2 linked regions of the Homo sapiens genome follow. The protein of the gene in region 1 interacts with the protein of each later gene in a biochemical or structural test. Each region holds a gene or a part of one and is shown in the gene's direction. Other genes may lie near its edges.

The links.
Region 2: the proteins of SPDEF (region 1) and CDK11A form a complex in vitro, tested with the Homo sapiens proteins (one study listed by BioGRID).

The regions. Positions count from the first base shown.
Region 1 is NC_000006.12:34,549,730-34,553,329, reverse strand, and holds part of SPDEF (SAM pointed domain-containing Ets transcription factor), read left to right. Parts: exon of another isoform or gene 1-912; coding exon of another isoform or gene 913-1,099; intron 1,100-3,600. UniProt on the Homo sapiens protein: May function as an androgen-independent transactivator of the prostate-specific antigen (PSA) promoter. Binds to 5'-GGAT-3' DNA sequences. May play a role in the regulation of the prostate gland and/or prostate cancer development.
Region 2 is NC_000001.11:1,722,598-1,726,704, reverse strand, and holds the start of CDK11A (cyclin-dependent kinase 11A), read left to right. Parts: upstream 1-2,347; 5' UTR 2,348-2,447; intron 2,448-3,873; 5' UTR 3,874-3,886; coding exon 3,887-3,997; intron 3,998-4,107. UniProt on the Homo sapiens protein: Appears to play multiple roles in cell cycle progression, cytokinesis and apoptosis. The p110 isoforms have been suggested to be involved in pre-mRNA splicing, potentially by phosphorylating the splicing protein SFRS7.

The DNA.
Region 1 (3,600 bases):
GCCCTGGGCTCTTCCTGACATTTAATGCCAAGCTCCTTCTCCTGGCTAGTTTGCATGTTTTCAGCCTGGGAGGTGCCCCCTGCCAGATTCTGCTCTCCCACCTCTCAGCAGCCGGGGTTGGGGGTGGGTAGAAAGGGGCCTCCAGACTTGGGGAGGGAGAGGCTCATCCTTCCTCCCCAGCCAGGGACCTTAGTGTGACTCTGCTGGGGGTCGGATGGGACCGGGACCTCCCCAGGATTATGACGGCGCACCACCAGGATAAAGACCCCCCTCCTTCTCCCTCTAGCTCTGGCACAGGGGAGACGTGGCTGGAGGGACTGCCCAGCCCGGGGCTCCAGCGCCTGAGACTGGTTGCGGGGCAAGGCCCAGGCCTCTCTGCTCCTGGGGTAGCAAGTTGCTTTGAGGGCTGCTGGGACCTAGCTCCTCCTGCCCCACCCTACCCTCTGTGCCAGGACAAAAGGGGGATGTGTCTCTGCTGACACTTCACAGGTGGGAACCGGTCCTGATAACCCCTTAATAACCCACTCCCACCCATCTCAACCTTGTTTGAAGCAATTTCTGTTCTTAGCCTGTCAGGACAGTTCTTTCTGGACTTTTCTCATCTGTGATGTTGGAGTCCTTCACTTTGTCCTAACACCCCTCTCCAAGCCTGGAGGTGTGCTCCAGGGCCTGAGGATCAGGGCGCAGGAATGTTTTTTCCCTTCAGCCCATCAAGATTTTACAGACCAACAACCAGGTGTGTGGAGGGCCTCTGCCTTCCCTGGCCTGTGCTGGGTCTGGAGGGGCCGCAGAAACACGGCAGATGGAGACAGCAGTCACCACTGTGGACACACACCTCTCGGGAGACAGTGAAGCCTTCTCACATCGCTGTCCTGCCTGGTGACTTCAAAATCCAGACACACAGCTGTCTTTATGAGTCCCTGTTTCACTGCTGAAGAGGCTGAGGCCAAGAGGATCGGCCAAGGGGCCTCAGGCAGGAGCAGCAGAGCTCCGGTGACATCCGTGTGTTCTCATGCCCTCAACGACCCTGCTGGGCAGGGCTGTGGGGAGCAAGAGACCCAGGAAACCTCACGACCCCTGTCCTGTGGCAAGCTGGGAGGTACGGCGTATGCGGGGCTGGAGGAGGGTAGGGAAGAGGGAAGGTACTGTGGCCGGCCCTTCAAGGAGTGTACCGGCGATTTGGGGGTGAGGACGAGACTGTGCCAGAGAGGGGCAGCCATGTGACCCGGGCTGCATCATGGCAAAGCGGGGATGTGCAGGTGGTGGGGGTATGGCAGCCTTGGTGTGGCTAAGAGGCCTGACGGGGGCACTGAGAAGTGAAATGTATTTATATACACATGGGCTCAACCAGGGCTGAAGGAAGACGTGAATGGCAATTTCTGGAAAGCCCTGAAGGTTGAGCGGAATTGTAGTTGCTATGGTGGGAAACTGGGTTCTGTCCCCGCCCCGTCAGCATGACTCACTGCAAGCCCCAGGTTTGTCTGGGCTGGGGTCCCTGCTGGCTGGAGGAGGCGGGGAGGCACTGCTGCTGGGGTGGGAGCCAGGCCTGATGGGCAGCTGGTGAGGTGCAGGACAGCCTGAAGCTGGCTCTGCTTCTTCAGAAGGGTGGGCTGAGTCTTTCAGAGCCTCCAGACATCAACTCCAGGGACAGCCACACCCCTCATCCTGCCAAAAGTGTCAGCTGTAAATGGAGTATGCCTTTGCTTACAAGGGAGCCCCAGGTGTCCACCTCTGCGTCCCCACCATCCTTCTTTAAGTCCCCAAAGCCAGGCTGATGGCAAGATGAGGGTCATGGATCGTAAAATCCAGGCAGTGCCAGGGCTAACAAAGTCCTCAGAGATGACCTGGCCTACAGAGCAGGAGACTGAGGGCTGGAGGGACCAGGGACTCACCCAGGGTCTCTCCTATGGAGGGAACAGGGCAGGGTGTCACCTGCACCTCCTGAAGTGGAGGTCTTCGTTCTTTCCAGTCCACATCCCCTTTTGGAGTAAACTCAGCCACGATGGTCCACTTGGGGCTGCGGTGGGCCTCTGTACCTCCAGGCTGCGGGCACCTGTGCTACCCACACCCCACTAAGGCAACTGCTGTGGGGCTGGGTTGGCAGGTGGCCTGAGCAGAGGCAAAGGGGATGGTCAACAGGGGCAACCTTAGGAGCTAGAAGATGCCGGGTCTGCCAGCACCAGCAGAAAGGAGGGTGGAGCCGAGTCTTGAGTTCGAGTCCCTGCTCACTCACGCATGGACAGGTGCCCCGTAGCAGGTCACAGCGCCCTTGTCCGTCAAGTGGGAATAATGCTGGCTGCCCCAGCTGGGAGGGCCCGGCAAAGCAGTTTATTCAGTTTGACCTTCCTCCTGTCCCAGAAAGCGCTGGAAGTAGTGCCAGTGAGGGTGTGTGTGGACACCCAGGCTGCCCATGCAGCAGGGCACAGAGGAGGCTTCACTGATGCAATGTGTTCCTGCTGCCCGTGGGAACTGTGGGAAGAGAAAAACCACTGGGTTCCCCTGGCGCTCCACTTTGGCTTCCAGTGCCCCGTCTTCCTGCTACGTGGCCCCGCCCCCAGCTTCCACCTGCCTCCCGCCCCACAAAGCCTCACCCACTCCCCTGTACTTCCCCCAACAGACCCCAGCTCCTGGGCCCACTAGCTGGCTCCCCAAGGTGAAACTCACACAGATCAGGGCTCCTGAAGAAGTTGTTAGGGGGACAGTTGGCCTGGACAGTTTTGTGCCCAGAGGAGGTGGGGAAAGCCCGGAGATCTAGAAGAAACCCACCTCGTCTACTCATGCTGAGTCCAAGACAGCAAGATCTCTCTCACTCAGTCACCTCCCTGCTCTCTTCTTCTGCCCTTGGAGACCCTGGGGAAGCAGGTGCTTGGAGATGGCCACAATGGGGTGCTTGAGAGAGGGCAGGAGCTGCTGGCCCGAGGTGGCAGCCTGGGCCCCCTTCCTGGGCAGCGGGGTGGTCTGTCCAGCGGGCAGAAGTGGTGCTCTGGGCAGTGAATGGAGGGCCGTAAGGAAGGGGTCTGGCACTTCTCTTGGGTCCAGCTAGTTTGAAGAGCAGTTTGAAGGGTGAGGTTGCAGCAAGGTCCTCCCTGTGGAAGGGTTGGAGGAGCAGAGAAGGGGTGGGAGGAACAGCAGGGCAAGAGAGAGGCTGGGGCCCCAAGGGGATGGGGCAGGGCAGGGGTCAGGGTGTTTGGAGAAGCCAGACATGCTACTGCGGCTGGGCCTGGTCATGGCTTTGGCTGGGACTTCCTGAGGCCTGGGTAGCCCAGCTTTTCTCCAAGGTGCTGACCAGGGCAGGCCCATGTGGCCCCTGCCCACTCTGCATGGCTCCTGGCCAAGACCTGGCCTCACCTCCACAGCCCCTGACTCCAGCCCATTTAAGGGGACCCAGGGACTTGGATGGATGGAGGGAGGGGCTGACAGACAGCTCAGTAGGCCACATGGGAAAGCCAGAGGAGGTCTGTTCCCCATCAGACCTCTTCCTCCTGCAGTGAGGCCGGCTGGGGGCTGAGCAGCAGGGCCAGAGTGGCCATCTCTGTCACTCCCTCAGTGCTCTTCTCAATGGGGACTAAAGCTGGGGTCTTGGGCTCTGGGCGGGCTGGC
Region 2 (4,107 bases), on another chromosome or scaffold:
AAAACACAAAAAAATTAGCCGGGCGTAGTGGTGGGCGCCTGTAGTCCCAGCTACTCGGGAGGCTGAGGCAGGAGAATCACTTGAACCTGGGAGGTGGAAGCTGCAGTTACCCAAAATTGTGTCACTCTACTCCAGCCTGGGTGACACAGTGAGACTTATTTCTCAAAAAAAAGGGCAGGGTGCTGTGGCTCACGCCTGTAATCCCAGCACTTTGGGAGGCCAAGGCAGGCAGATCACGAGGTCACGAGATCAAGACCATCCTGGCTAACACAGTGAAACCCGGTCTCAACTAAAAATACAAAAAATTAGCCGGGCATGGTGGCCCAGCTACTCTGGAGCCTAAGATGGGAGAATGGAGTGGAGGCGGGAGAATGGCGTGAACCCAGGAGGCGGAGCTTGCAATGAGCGGAGATCCCGCCACTGCCCTCCAGCCTGGGCCAGAGCGAGTCTCCCTATCAGAAAAAATAAAAATAGCTAGGCGCAGTGGCTCACGCCTGTAATCCCAGCACTCTGGGAGGCCAAGGCGGGCGAATCACAAGGTAAGGAGATCGAGACCATCCTGGCGAACACAGTGAAACCCCGTCTCTACTAAAAAAAATACAAAAAATTAGCCAGGCGCGGTGGCGGGTGCCTGTAGTCCCAGCTACTCGGCAGGCTGAGGCTCGCAGGATAATGGCGTTGAACCCGGGAGGTGGGGCTTGCAGTGAGCCGAGATTGCGCCACTGCACTCCAGCCTGGGCGACAGAGCAAGACTCCGTCTCAAAAAAAAATAAAAATAAAAAAATAGGGAGATTTCCCCAGTTACCAAGAACTCAGGAAGCAACATTAAGAGCTTGGGGGAGGCCAGGCGCGGTGGCTCACGCCTGTAATCCCAGCACTTTGGGAGGCAGAGGCAGGCTGATCACGAGGTCAGGAGATTGAGACCATCCTGGCTAACACGGTAAAACCCCGTCTCTACCGAAAATAAAAAAAAAATTAGCCGGGCATGGTGGCAGGCGCCTGTAGTCACAGGTACTCAGGAGCCTAATGCGGGCGAATGGAGTGGAGGCGGGAGAATGGCGTGAATCCGGGTGGCGGAGCTTCCAGTGACCCGAGATCGCGCCACTGCACTCCAGCCTGGGCAACAGAGCGAGACTCCGTCTCAAAAAAATAAAAATAAAAAAAGAGCTTGGGTACACAAAGCAAGCAGCATTTCATTCCGGGATGAAAAGAATTCCGATACCCATCGCCCTTCTTGGGCCCTTGTCAGTTTCTTGCCACATCTTTCATTTTCCCATTTCAGGCCCAGTAAATGCGGATGTTTATCTTCCATTGTTTGTTTCCTGAGATTCAGATGTCTAAAGCATTTTTCTGTGACTTTTCAAGGCAAGAGGAAAACCTGACATATGGAAAGGGAATTAATTGCTCGTTTTATCCTCTTCTCCTGCAATGCTCTGAATCCATGGGTTTGGAGTGGGGCCCTGGGAGTTGGGGGAAGCACCATACCCAGTGAGTCTGCACTTTGAGGACCCACTGCCAGTGTCAGCTTCAAAATCACATTGTAAAAGGCCCGGCGCGGTGGCTCACGCCTGTAATCCCAGCACTTTAGGAGGACGAAGCAGGCGGATCACTTGAGGTCAGGAGTTCGAGACCAGCCTGGCCAATATGGCGAAACCTCGTCTCTACCAAAAATATAAAAATTAGCCGGGCGTGGTGGCGCGGGCCTGTGGTTCCAGCTACTCGGGAGGCTGAGGCAGGAAAATTCCTTGAACCCGGGAGGAGGCTGCAGTGAGCCAAGACCACGCCACTGCACTCCAACCTGGGCGGCAGAGCAAGGCTCCGACTCAAAAGTAAATACATGAATAAATAAAATAAAATCACATCGTAAGAGCTCTCCCTGCTTTGTTTCTGAGTAAGGTTCAGAGTTAAATTCCGAGATCGGCCTTTACAAGACACACAGACCTGAGGCGCCTCACGAGGTAACCAGCAGGTAAATGGAGCGCGCTCCACCCACCCGCCACTAGGGGTCCCAGCGGTCAAGGGGGTGGAATGCGGGCGTCCATCGCGAAGGCATTCTGCTCGCAAGCCTTGGCACAGGCGCGGGCTTCGCTACCGGAAAAGTCCCGGTAGGATTCCGGAAGCCGGCCACGCGTTCCGCGCAGGCGCAAACTGCTCCAAAAGTCGGCGTCGCTCTGCTCGGCGCCCCGGCCCGCGCCGAAGTCGGAAGTGCAGCTCACGGCGCAGTTTCTTTTGGAGTCCTGGACCTGAGCAAGCGCTGTTTTATGCGTCATCATCCCGCGCAGACACAGGAAGTGCCGCACAGAGCGAGCCCCTGTCGTCTTGAGTTCTGGGCCAGAGGTCGGCTATTATATCATCATTAGGCGTCAACACAGGAAGTGAGGATACTTCTGGCGAGCGCCGGTTGCTGTTTCTTCTCAGGCTCAGGGACCGGCCGCGGCCCCGTAGGGGTGAGTTCCGACTGGGCGGACCAGGTGTGGGAGCGCGACGAGAACTGCGCACCGAGGTCTTTCTTCCGAGCAGGCCTCGGAGCGGGGCGGACCCGGGCCCGGGGGCGAGCGACACCCTCGCTTCCGCGGACAGTCTCATCCCGCACGGAACTTTGGGTGGTGGAGGCGGCGGGTCCAAACGCTGTCTGGAGCCAACGTCTGCCAGGCTGAACCTCAAGTGTGCGGGACTGAACCCGAGGAAATAGCCCAGTGCCCGGGTCAGGTGGCCTTGTTCGCGAGCACATCTCGGAGCATCTCCCCGGTCTCAAGGTGCAGCTGTCCAGTGTGCTAGTGGCTTCACGTAGTCCAAGCGGTCTTTCTAGCAGATTCTGACAGTAAAAGCAGTGTTTGATGAGTGGCAGGTCCTGAGTTAAGAGCCTTTAAACGGATGATCTTTAATCCGCGATCGATACTATCACGTAGGTGTTGTTATTCTGGTTGTACGGAAGACTGAACTGAGGTGAATTACGTTACCCAAGACCATACAAGAATGACAGAAACGAGACTTGATTTCAAGCGGTCATTTTTCAGAACCCATCACTCTTTTTTGTCGCCCATGCTGCAGCGCAGTGGCTGTTCACAAGCGCACTTCAGCCTGGAACTCCTGGGCTCAATCGGTCTCCCATCTCAGCTTGCAGAGTATATGGGACTACAGGCGCTCGCCACCTTGCCTGGCTTACAACTTATCATTCTTGTTTTTTTTTTTTTTTTTTTTTTTTTTTTTTTTTTTGAGACGGGGTCTTGCTGGAGTGCAGTGACGCGACCTCGGCTCACCGGAACCTCCGCCTTTCGGATTCAAGCGATTCTGCTGCCTCGGCCTCCCGAGTAGCTGGGATTACAGGCACCCGCCACCACGCCCAGCTAAGTTTTGTATTTTTAGTGGAGACAGGGTTTTCGCCGTGTTGGCCAGGCTGGTCTTGACCTCCCGACCTTGTGATCCACCCGCCTCAGCCTAGAGCTTACCTTTTTTTTTTTTTTTTTTTAACCAAGTCTTACTTTGTTATCTAGGCTGGAGTGCAGTGGCGCAGTCTTGGCTCATTGCAGCCTTGACCTCTCTGATTCAAGTGATCCTCCTGCCTCTAGCAGCCTCCTTCCTGTAGCTAGGAATACAGGCACGCGCCACCACACTGGGCTAACTTTTGTATTTTTTGTAGAGACGAGGTTTTGCCATGTTGCCCGGGCTGGTGTTGAACTCCGGAACTCCAGCGATCTGCTCGCCTCGGCCTCCCAAAGTGCTAGGGTTACCGTCTTGAGCCACTGCGCCGGGCACAACTTCTTATTCTTAATGAGGATTTATTCTGAATCCCTCAAAAGTGACTAGGTTCAAGTGTTCAGCACCATAGCTTGCTGTGTCCTGATGTAGGCTGAATTATTTTTCTTTTTGCAGTGTTTTAACTCAAATGGGTGATGAAAAGGACTCTTGGAAAGTGAAAACTTTAGATGAAATTCTTCAGGAAAAGAAACGAAGGAAGGAACAAGAGGAGAAAGCAGAGATAAAACGCTTAAAAAATGTAAGCCATATTTTTTTAAGTAAGTGGTTTTCTTAAAGGAGATTTAATTTCTTTGCCCTCATTTTTCCATTAGAACAACGCTTCTTCGGTGAAGTTCTTTTGTACTTCCA